Linked DNA regions of Homo sapiens. The protein of the gene in region 2 interacts with the protein of the main gene of each other region in a pairwise test. Each region holds a gene or a part of one and is shown on either strand. Other genes may lie near its edges.

The links. The genes of interacting proteins can lie anywhere in the genome.
Region 1: the proteins of ADORA2A (region 2) and CD4 come close enough for resonance energy transfer, tested with the Homo sapiens proteins (one study listed by BioGRID).

The regions. Positions count from the first base shown.
Region 1 is NC_000012.12:6,799,505-6,806,542, forward strand, and holds part of CD4 (T-cell surface glycoprotein CD4 isoform 1 precursor), read left to right. Parts: intron 1-33; exon of another isoform or gene 34-119; intron 120-567; 5' UTR 568-634; coding exon 635-683; intron 684-802; coding exon 803-967; intron 968-7,038. UniProt on the Homo sapiens protein: Integral membrane glycoprotein that plays an essential role in the immune response and serves multiple functions in responses against both external and internal offenses.
Region 2 is NC_000022.11:24,437,577-24,442,873, forward strand, and holds the end of ADORA2A (adenosine receptor A2a), read left to right. Parts: intron 1-700; exon of another isoform or gene 701-1,182; intron 1,183-1,717; exon of another isoform or gene 1,718-1,991; intron 1,992-3,006; coding exon 3,007-3,913; 3' UTR 3,914-4,781; downstream 4,782-5,297. UniProt on the Homo sapiens protein: Receptor for adenosine. The activity of this receptor is mediated by G proteins which activate adenylyl cyclase.

The DNA of each region.
Region 1 (7,038 bases), on a different chromosome or scaffold from region 2:
TTCTCTGTAGTACATGTGCATCTTTTTTTGCAGTGGTGCAATCTTGGCTCACTGCAACCTCCTCCTCCCTGGTTCAAGTGATTCTCCTGCCTCAGCTTCCTAAGCACCTGAGACTACAGGTGCATGCCACCACGCCCGGCTAATTTTTGTATTTTTAGTAGAGATGGGGTTTCACCATGTTGGCCAGGCTGATCTCGAACTCCTGACCGCAAGTGATCCACCCACCTCGGCCTCCCAAAGCACTGGGATTACAGGCATGAGCCACCGCACCCAGCCTAGTATATGCCCATCTCTTAGGAGCTGCTCCTAACTGGTTTGGTTTGGATCTAGCCAGCCATGGGGCTCCTTATTCACTTATTTATCTTCTGTTTTTGCTCACCTGCCTCTTTCTCTTGCTTCTGCTCCTACTCATTCCTTCCTTAATCCAACCTCCAATTCCCTCTGCTATTCTCCTGCCTCAAGTTCACTAGGCTGGCTGCAAGGGTCCTGAGGGAGAGGTTGTGTATCGCCCCTGTATACTCCAGGTCCAGTAAATGTTTGCTGACTAATGATTGGCATTTCCCTCAGGCCCTGCCATTTCTGTGGGCTCAGGTCCCTACTGGCTCAGGCCCCTGCCTCCCTCGGCAAGGCCACAATGAACCGGGGAGTCCCTTTTAGGCACTTGCTTCTGGTGCTGCAACTGGGTAAGTTCTCAGACCTGGGGTCTCAATGCAGATGACGTGGGAGGAAAGGCAAAGGTGGAGGATGGGGTAGAGGGGGACAGCGGCGACATTGAGACCTGACTCCTTTCTTTTCCACTTAGCGCTCCTCCCAGCAGCCACTCAGGGAAAGAAAGTGGTGCTGGGCAAAAAAGGGGATACAGTGGAACTGACCTGTACAGCTTCCCAGAAGAAGAGCATACAATTCCACTGGAAAAACTCCAACCAGATAAAGATTCTGGGAAATCAGGGCTCCTTCTTAACTAAAGGTAGGGTTGCCTGGCTCCCCATCCAGGGAGGAAAACACACTATGGAGTGAAAGCCTTTGGTGTCTGAGATCTGGTCTTAGTTAAACTCTGGGATCCCAGAGGGCTTGGGTTGACAGAAACTCAGTGGCATTCTTATCCAGAGTTTCTCTACACCAACTGCTGGTGGCCCAGGGAAAGGTGGTATGTGAATTTCAATATTTTAATATTTAATATTCATGAACTTATTTTAGTGAGTTTTAGAACAATCACTATCACTTAAAACCCGTGATTTCTTGAGTATTGTTGCTACAGACCTATGTAGATAATACTTTGCACAGTGACTCATATGTATAATCCTAGCACTGTGGGAGGCTGAGGCCGGAGGATTGCTTGAGTCCAGGAGTTCAAGACCAGCCTGAACAACATAGTGAGACTCTGTCTCTATGAAAAAAAATATATATATATTTTTTTTGGAGACAAGGTCTAGTTCTATCACCCAGGCTCCAGTGCAGTGGTGTGATCTCGGCTCACTGCAATCTCCACCTCCCAGGCTCAAGTCATCATCCCACCTCAGCCTCCCAAGTAGCTGGGACTACAGGCATGCACCACCATGCCAGGCTAATTTTTGTATTTTTTATAGAGACAGGGTTTCACCATGTTGGCCAGGCTGGTCTCGAACTCATGAGCTCAAGTGATCCACTCACCTTGGCCTCTCAGAGTGCTGGAATTACAGGTGTGTGTCACTATGCCTAGCCAAAAAAAATTTTTTTAATTAAAAAAAAAAAGGCCGGCTGTAGTGGCTCACACCTGTAATCCAGAACTTTGGGAGTTTGAGGTGGGCAGATCACCGGNGGTCAGGAGTTCAAGACCAGTCTGGCCAACATGGTGAAACCCGGTCTCTACTAAAAATACAAAAATTAGCCAGGTGTGGGGGTGCAGTCCTGTACTTCCAGCTACTCAGGAGGCTGAGGCAGGAGACTCGCTTGAACCTGGGAGGCAAAGGCTGCAGTGAGCTGAGATTGCACCACTGCACTCCAGCCTGGGTGACAGAGCAAGACTTCATCTCAAAAAAAAAAAAAAAGCTGCANATTTATTATTATTATTATTAGTTTATTTATTTATTTTTTTGAGACAGAGTCTCGTTCTGTCGCCCAGGCTGGAGTGCGGTGGCGTGATCTTGGCTCATTGCAACCTCCACCTCCCGGGTTCAAGTGATTCTCCTGCCTCAGCCTCCCGAGTAGCTGGGACTACAGGCGTATGCCACCATGCCTGGCTAATTTTTTGTACTTTTAGTAGAGACAGAGTTTCACGGTGTTAGCCAGGCTGGTCTTGATCTCCTGACCTCGTGATTTACCCTCCTTGGCCTCCCAAAGTGCTGGGATTACAGGCGTGAGTCACTGTGCCCGGCCCAGAATCATTTTTTTCTACTTTTTTTTTTTTGAGGCAAACTCTCGATCTGTTGCCCAGGCTGGAGTGCAGTGGGCATGATCTTGGCTCACTGCAAGCTCTGCCTCCCAGGTTCAAGCAATTCTCCTGCCTCAGCCTCCTGAGTAGCTGGGACTACAGGCGTGTGCCACCATGCCCGGCTAATTTGCGTATTTTTAGTAGAGACCGGTTTTCATCATATTGGCCAGGCTGGTCTTGAACTCCTGACCTCAAGTGATTCTCCCACCTTAGCCTCCCAAAGTGCTGGGATTACAGGCATGAGCTACTGCACTTGGCCTTTTCTCCTGGTTTTAAAACTATTATATGCTCATTACAAAATATTTGGTCAATGAAGAAAAGAATATGGAAGAAAATCAAATGCATGCATACTTCTATCACTCAGAGATATCCTCTGCTAACATTTTGATTGATTTTCTTCCAATCTTTTTTTTTTTTTTTCTTTTTGAGACAGGGTCTCACTCTGCTGCCCAGGCTGGAGTACAGTGGCATGACCACAACACATCACAGCCTCAAGTGATCTTCCCACTTCAGCCTTCCCAGTAGCTGGGACTACAGGTGCACGCCACCATGTTCACCTAATTTTTTACTTTTTGTAGAGATGAGACTTCACCATGTTGCTCAGGCTGGTCTTGAATTCCTAGGCTCAAGTGATCTTCCCGCTTTGGCCTCCCAAAGTGCTGGGATTATAGGTATGAGCCACTGCATGTGGCCTATTTTCTTCCACTGTTGTTCGGCGTGGAGAATATTATATACATAATTACGTAAATGATATCATACTGTATATACCTTTTTTCCTACTCCTTCCTTAAGTTATATCATAATGAGACTACCAATTATTAGACTTTTTTTCTTTTTTTTGAGACGGAGTCTCGGTCTGTCACCTAGGCTGGAGTGCAATGGCGCGATCTCAGCTCGCTGCAACCTCTGCCTCCCAGGTTCAAGCAATTCTGCCTCAGCCTCCCGAGTAGCTGGGACTACAGACACGTGCCACCATGCCCAGCTAACTTTTTTATTTTTTTATTAGAGACAGGGTTCCACCATGCTAGCAGGATGGTCTCAATCTCTCGACTTCGTGATCAGCCCGGCTTGGCCTCCCAAAGTGCTGGGAGTACAGGTGTGAGCCACCGCACTCGGCCTAGACTAACTATTTAAAGTAATCTGGCAATGTTTAACGAATACAAAACTCTAAAACCCTTGGACCTAATAATAGCTATTTTGGAAAGTCTACTTGACAGAAATAAAATTGTGAATATTCTTTTTTGTTGTTTTTTTGAGACAGAGTCTCATTTGGACGCCTAGGCTGGAGTGCAGTGGCATGATCTCGGCTAACTGCAACCTCCACCTCCTGGGTTCAAGTGATTCTCCTGCCTCAGCCTCCTGAGCAGCTGGGATTACAGGTGTGCACCACCATGTCTGGCTAATTTTTGCATTTTTAGTAGATGGGGTTTCACCATGTTGACCAGGGTGGTCTGGAACTTCTACCCTCAAGTGATCTACCCACCTTGGCCTCCCAAAGTGCTGGGATTACAGGTGTGAGCCACCACGCCTGACCAGTGAACACTTAATAATATCTATGGAAAGGTGTTATTATAAGAATTGCTTGTGGGGCCGGGCGTGGTGGCTCACGCCTGTAATCCCAGCACTTTGGGAGGCTGTGGCAGGCGGATCACGAGGTCAGGAGATCAAGATCATCCTGGCTAACACGGTGAAACCCCGTCTCTACTAAAAATACCAAAAAATTAGCCAGGCGTGGTGGCGGGCACTTGTAATCCCAGCTATCCAGGAGGCTGAGGCAGGAGAATTGCGTGAACCCAGGAGGCGGAGGTCGCAGTGAGCTGAGACCGTGCCATTGCACTCCAGCCTGAGTGACAGAGTGAGACTCCATCACAAAAAATAAATAAATAAATAAATAAAATATAAATAAGTAAATAAAGGTCAGGAGTGGTGGCTCACGCCTGTAATCCCAGCACTTTGGGAGGCCGAGGTGGACAGATCATGAGGTCATGAGATCAAGACCATCCTGGCTAACACAGTGAAACCCTGCCTCTACTAAAAATACAAAAAGTCATCCAGGTGTGGTGGCACACACCTATAGTCCCAGCTACTTGGGAGGCTGAGGCAGGAGAATCACTTGAACCCAGGAGGCAGAGGTTGCAGTGAGCTGAGATCGCGCCACTACACTCCAGCCTAGGCGACAGAGCAAGACTCTGTCTCAAAATAAATAAATAAATAAATAAATAAATAAATAAATAAATAAAATAAAAAGCACACACACACACACACACACACACACACAATGCAAAAGACCCACCCTACTACAACTAACATTATATTTAATGGTGAAAAACTGAATTCTTTCTCCCTAAGTGCAGGAATAAGACAAAGATGTCTGCTCTTACTACTCTTATTCAACATAATACTGCAATCCCTTGCCAGTGCAATAAGGCAAGAAAAATGAAATAAAAGGAAAACTGATCAGAAAGAAAGAAATAAAACTGTTCCTATTTGTGGATGACATGATTACATAGAAAATCTCAAAGAATCTGTAAGAAACTTCTTAGAATTAATAAATGAATTCATCAAGGTTGCAGAATATAAGATAAACATAAAAAATCTATTGTATTTCTATATATTAGCAAGGAACATGTGTACACAGAAATTAAAACTACAATACCATTTATAATTGCTCAAAAAGGCCAGGCATGGTGGCTCACACCTGTAATTCCTGCACTTTGGGAGGCCAAGGTGGGAAGATTGCTTAAGCCCAGGAGTTCAAGACCAGCCCGGGCAACATAGTGAGACCTTGTCTCTACAAAAAGTAAAAAATTAGCTGAGCATGGCCGGGTGCAGTGGCTCACTCCTGTAACCCCAACACTTTGGGAGGCTGAGGCGGGCGGATCATGAGGTCAGGAGATCGAGACCATCCTGGCTAACACGGTGAAACCCTGTCTCTACTAAAAACACAAAAAATTAGCTGGATGTGGTGGCAGGCGCCTGTAGACCCAGCTACTCGGGAAGCTGAGGCAGGAGAATGGCGTGAACCTGGGAGGCGGAGCTTGCAGTGAGCTGAGATTGTGCCACTGCACTCCAGCCTGGGTGACACAGTGAGACTACGTCTCAAAAAAAAAAAAAAAAAAATTAGCTGAGCATTATGGTGTATGCCTGTAGTCCCAGCTACTGGGGAGGCTGAGGTGGGAGGATTGCTTGAGCCCTAGGAGGGCAAGGCTGCAGTGAGCCATGATCACACCACTGCTTTCCAGCCTCGGTAGGAGAGCAAGACCCTATCTCAAAAAAAAAAAAAAAAAAAAAAGAAAAGAAAAGAAAAGAAAAGAAAAAGAAAGAGAGAAAGAAATACTTAGGTGTAAATCTAAAAAACATGCGTAGGGCCAGGTGCAGTGGCTCATGCCTGTAATCCCAGCACTTTGGGAAGTTGAGGCTGGCGGATCACTTGAAGTCGGGAGTTTGAGACCAGCCTGGCCAACATGGTGAAACCCCGTCTCTACTAAAAATGCAAAAATTAGGCAGGTGTTGTGGCGCATGCCTGATCCCAGCTACTTTGGAGGCTGAGGCAGGAGAATTGCTTCAACCCGGGAGGCAGAGGTTGCAGTGAGCCAAGACTGTTCCACTGCACTCCAGCCTGGGCAACAGAGTAAGAGTCTGTCTCCCGAAAAAAAAAAAAAGAAAAAAGAAAGCATTGAATTGTATGCTAAAAACTACACGATGCTGATTAAAGAAGTCAAAGAAGATCTAAATATATGGAGAGACATGCTGTACTCATGGATTGATGGATTGGAAGACTCAACATAAGAAAGATATCAATTTTCCCCAAATTAATATACAAGTTTAATCCAATTCCTATAAAAATACCAGCAAGATTTTTTGTAGATATAAACAAGTTGGCCAGGTGTAGTGGCTTACACCTGTAATCCTAGCACTTTGGGAGGCTGAGGTGGGAAGATCGCTTGAGCCCAGGTGTTCACGACTGCAGTGAGCTATGATTGTGTCACTGCATTCCAGCTGGCACTCCAGCCTAAGTGACAAAGGGAGACCCTGTCTCAAAAACAAAAACAAAACCAAAATAATTTTGCTCTGCAAAATCCCTATTAAGAAGAAGAAAAGAGGCTGGGCACAGTGGCTCACCGCTGTAATCCCAGCACGTTGGGAGGCTGAGGCAGGCTGATCACTTCAGCCCAGAAGTTTGAGATCAGCCTGGGCAACATGAGGAAACCCCGTCTCTACCAAAAAAAAAAAAAGGTACATACACACACACACACACACACACACACATACACAAGTATATACACATATATATACACATACAGGTGAATAGATGTATATACATCTATTTATTGTGAATATACATCTATACACACACGTGTGTGTACACATATATTTAAAATTTATTTTTATTTATTTATTTATTTTTGAGACAGAGTCTTGCTCTGTCACCCAGGCTGGGTGCACCTGTATTCCCAACGACACAGGAGGCTGAGGTGGGAGAATCACTGAGCCAGGGAGGCAGAGGTTGCAGTGAGCCAAGATGTTGCCTGGTTGCCTGGGCAACAGAGCGAGACCCTATATCAAAAAAGAAGAATAATAAGAAAAGACAGTTTACAGAATATAAGAAAATATATTCACAATCCACA
Region 2 (5,297 bases):
TTAAAAAGGAACAAAAGAGTATAGTATAGTAGAAAGTTGTCCTCCATACCCCCTGTCCCCCACCCTCAGTTCCCTGCCTGCAAGGCCATGTTAAGAATCCTTCCAGAGATATTCTTTGCATATATAAGCAAGTGCTATTAATGTATGTTTTGTTTCTGTCCCCACACGGGACTTTCTTTGCAGAGTACGGTGGAAGACTCCCCTTGTGGGTTCCCTTTTCTGTACAAGTCAACAATTGGACAGACCAGGGATTTCCATACTGTGTTCCCAGAAGCCTTCGGGTTGGCTCTGGTGTCCCCACCAATTCACTGATTCAATAAACATTTAATAAGCCCCTTCCCTTCCCCAGCAGCTTCACCTCTGTGACTGCCTGGGAATGTGGGCGACAAGGTTTGCTGCTGAGAACAGTTTGAAAACCAGCAAAGCAGGTGGCCCAGGGCCCAGGCAGCTCTGCAACACCCCTGTGGCTGCTTGGCTCTGCTCTGTTGCCTCAAATGACAGGAAACTCACTATTGCCTGAGGCAGGCCATCTCTCCTGTGAACAGCTCAGCTGAAAAACTCTTAACCTACCCTGAGTTACAATCTGCCTCCCTATAATTTCCACCCACTGATTCTCCATTCTGCCCTTAGAGGGCAGAGTGCTGACAGGTCCACGACTTGGTCCCATTTTACAAATGAAGAAACTGAGGCTCAGAGAGACAAAGTTTTAAAACATTCCTGTTAACAGGGCCAGAACCCAGGAAGGGATATGCTTTTCTCAGGAATAATGTCAAAATTAATATAGCTTCCCAGTCAATGAGGACTATATAAATTACTATTTGCAAAGCACTAAGAACAGTGTCCGGCACAGAGTCAGTGCTATGTAATGTAGATGTGAGAATGAGAGAGCCTGAGATTTTATGTTTGCGAGTCCCACAGGAGGCAGGGCAATGCCAACTCCCTGTTGCTTGGAAGCAATGGGCAAGTCTATGACCCTCCTGTTGAGGCCCTGTTACAGGTAACCAAGCCCCCACGGAATGGAGCTGAGGAGCTCCTGAGAATGGGCTTGTCCGGTTACTGTTTGGATTCAGAACTGACCTAAGAGATTCAGAACAGACAGACTCGCCTTGGCCTGAGTTGCCTCTGGGCTCTTGGAATGTCCACAGCAAGTCCATTCCTCTCCTTGGGCCTCAATTTACCCACCTGTAAAACAAGAGGATTGGACCACATAAGAGATCGGAAGCCACCAGGGTTTCTCTTTTTCTCTTTTATTTGAATTAGTTGACAAAACTTAAATCTTGGGAGATTTTACCCAGAAAATCATCTCCCCAGCCCCACCTGAGATCTGGTAATAGCAGGCGTACGTTTTGCATGGCGCTGAAGACCAGGTAAACGCCCCACCAGCTGCCTCCTGTGTGTGCTACCTATAGGCGCCTGTTTGCTACCCGTGAATGAGATGGTTTCTGTGGATGTTCCCAGCTCCGCAGTTAAGTAGAGCACATCCTTCCCCTTGCACCTTTTTTTTTTTTTTTTTTTTTTTTTTTTTGGAGACTGAGTCTTGCTCTGTCTCCCAGGCTGGAGTGCAGTGGCGCGATCTTGGCTCACTGCAAGCTCTGCCTCCTGGGTTCACACCATTCTCCTGCCTGTCTCCCAAGTAGCTGGGATTACAGGCCCCCGCCACCACGGCCGGCTAGTTTTTTTTATTTTTAGTAGAGACAAGGTTTCTCCATCTCCTGACCTCGTGATCCGCCTGCCTCGGCCTCCCAAAGTGCTGGGATTACAGGTGTGAGCCACTGCGCCCGGCCTCCTTGCACCTTCTGAGTGTCCCTGTCTCGGAGCTGGCAATGCAGAGATGGATGTAGGAAAGCCCTGCCCCCGAGGGGCCCAGATGTGGTGGGGATCTGCTGCACTTCGGTAGGAAACTTCTTTGAGATCTCTATCCTGGACTTGAAGGATGGGTAGGGTTTCTGCCAGGTAGAGGGGAGTGTAGTCTGGTCTTGCCAGAATCAAAACTGTTAAACAGAAGTCATCCCTCAGTGATCATCAAGGTTGCCTTCCTAAATTAGGGAGACTTTTTTTTTTTATTGTCCATTCTTTCATGAAATCTAGGCCACCTTTCCTACAGGGCTGAGGTCTGCTTACTGGCTGGCAGATCCAGCCATTTCCCGAGTATGAGACTGGGAGTCGGTAGGCTTGGATTTCTGTCTGGCTCTCACTCAGGAAGACTGAGTGATTTCGGGCAGATTACTGTCCCCCTGGACCTCAGTATTTCCTTGCAAATGTTAAGATGGCCATGTAAATGTTAACAAGTAATTCTCTCATTTCTCTCCAGAGGGCTGTGGGTGGGTTTGGAGGGGAGAAATGGCATCTCCTTTGGCCTGGGACCTCCTCCCCTCTTTTACCCTCCATGCTGCCTCTCCTCAAGGGCTTCTGGAGTCCCCAAGTCAAATGGCAAATGGGGAAGAGAAGACAGGGTATGGAGTACAAGAGGCCTAGATCCTCTATAGGTCTGATCTGGCTGGTGCTGCCCCTAGCCAGTAAAGCCACCCTCCAGACCCCTTCAAGCCTGTTGTAGCCTTAACCAAGATCAACCAACATGGAGGTGACTGATCTTGGTTAAGGCTGCGACCAACATGGAGGTAATTGATCTTGGTTAAGGCTACGACACGTTTCCCTTTAGAGAAAAATCATGTTTTCCCCCTCAAAAAATCATGCGTTAATTTCCTCCAACCAAACTAAGTCCCAGGACTACTCCGAAAACTACTCAATGACCATCTGGGCATTTGTACATGGGTTTCCATTTCTTGGATGCCTGCTCTCCTGTTACCTCCCAGAAGCCTGTGAAAAAGGCAAGGCATATTACTTCCACTTAACGGAAGAGGATGCTGGGGCGAGGTGGCAGGAAATGACTGGTCCAAGACCTTACAGTCAGGAAATGTGGAAACGGGTGCTGCTCTGGGGTTCTGAACTCTTGGCCCTGCTTAACCCTGGCTTCTCAGATCTCTGATGCTGGTCTCTTCTCCCCAGGTACAATGGCTTGGTGACCGGCACGAGGGCTAAGGGCATCATTGCCATCTGCTGGGTGCTGTCGTTTGCCATCGGCCTGACTCCCATGCTAGGTTGGAACAACTGCGGTCAGCCAAAGGAGGGCAAGAACCACTCCCAGGGCTGCGGGGAGGGCCAAGTGGCCTGTCTCTTTGAGGATGTGGTCCCCATGAACTACATGGTGTACTTCAACTTCTTTGCCTGTGTGCTGGTGCCCCTGCTGCTCATGCTGGGTGTCTATTTGCGGATCTTCCTGGCGGCGCGACGACAGCTGAAGCAGATGGAGAGCCAGCCTCTGCCGGGGGAGCGGGCACGGTCCACACTGCAGAAGGAGGTCCATGCTGCCAAGTCACTGGCCATCATTGTGGGGCTCTTTGCCCTCTGCTGGCTGCCCCTACACATCATCAACTGCTTCACTTTCTTCTGCCCCGACTGCAGCCACGCCCCTCTCTGGCTCATGTACCTGGCCATCGTCCTCTCCCACACCAATTCGGTTGTGAATCCCTTCATCTACGCCTACCGTATCCGCGAGTTCCGCCAGACCTTCCGCAAGATCATTCGCAGCCACGTCCTGAGGCAGCAAGAACCTTTCAAGGCAGCTGGCACCAGTGCCCGGGTCTTGGCAGCTCATGGCAGTGACGGAGAGCAGGTCAGCCTCCGTCTCAACGGCCACCCGCCAGGAGTGTGGGCCAACGGCAGTGCTCCCCACCCTGAGCGGAGGCCCAATGGCTATGCCCTGGGGCTGGTGAGTGGAGGGAGTGCCCAAGAGTCCCAGGGGAACACGGGCCTCCCAGACGTGGAGCTCCTTAGCCATGAGCTCAAGGGAGTGTGCCCAGAGCCCCCTGGCCTAGATGACCCCCTGGCCCAGGATGGAGCAGGAGTGTCCTGATGATTCATGGAGTTTGCCCCTTCCTAAGGGAAGGAGATCTTTATCTTTCTGGTTGGCTTGACCAGTCACGTTGGGAGAAGAGAGAGAGTGCCAGGAGACCCTGAGGGCAGCCGGTTCCTACTTTGGACTGAGAGAAGGGAGCCCCAGGCTGGAGCAGCATGAGGCCCAGCAAGAAGGGCTTGGGTTCTGAGGAAGCAGATGTTTCATGCTGTGAGGCCTTGCACCAGGTGGGGGCCACAGCACCAGCAGCATCTTTGCTGGGCAGGGCCCAGCCCTCCACTGCAGAAGCATCTGGAAGCACCACCTTGTCTCCACAGAGCAGCTTGGGCACAGCAGACTGGCCTGGCCCTGAGACTGGGGAGTGGCTCCAACAGCCTCCTGCCACCCACACACCACTCTCCCTAGACTCTCCTAGGGTTCAGGAGCTGCTGGGCCCAGAGGTGACATTTGACTTTTTTCCAGGAAAAATGTAAGTGTGAGGAAACCCTTTTTATTTTATTACCTTTCACTCTCTGGCTGCTGGGTCTGCCGTCGGTCCTGCTGCTAACCTGGCACCAGAGCCTCTGCCCGGGGAGCCTCAGGCAGTCCTCTCCTGCTGTCACAGCTGCCATCCACTTCTCAGTCCCAGGGCCATCTCTTGGAGTGACAAAGCTGGGATCAAGGACAGGGAGTTGTAACAGAGCAGTGCCAGAGCATGGGCCCAGGTCCCAGGGGAGAGGTTGGGGCTGGCAGGCCACTGGCATGTGCTGAGTAGCGCAGAGCTACCCAGTGAGAGGCCTTGTCTAACTGCCTTTCCTTCTAAAGGGAATGTTTTTTTCTGAGATAAAATAAAAACGAGCCACATCGTGTTTTAAGCTTGTCCAAATGAGAATGGCGTCTGAGTTCGTTTCCTACTCCATAGCTAGGCCTGTGCACACATACAGGCATGTGTTGTGTATGAGAGAGTGTGTGCGTATGTGCAGACACCCTGCCTGCCCCGGGGGCCCTCCCCAGGGTCCTGTCCTCGAGGGGACAGGCTGCCTGGCTGCACCACAATCCAACCTGCATTTCTATGAGGGCCCACAGGGGCTATGGGAGAAGGGGCTTTCCCCAGCAACTCCCCCCCTCCTTATCTTCCTACATCTTTAAGGGAAGATCTCTTTGTATGTTACCTTCTCAGAACTGTGACCCGCCACCTGCCCTGCTGCACCCTTTAGCAGAGGTCACAGAGGTATCCGCAAACAGATCTGGGCAGGGGCTACACGGCCTTCCCCTAGAATCCCCCTCCTTCTGTTCTTAACAAAAGAAACCCAGAAGGAAGGGGTGTTTTTGCTCTGACCCCGGCCTTAGGGGCCTCCTGCCTGAGGAGGTGGTGCCATCTTTCTGTGATGGCGAAGTTTGAGGC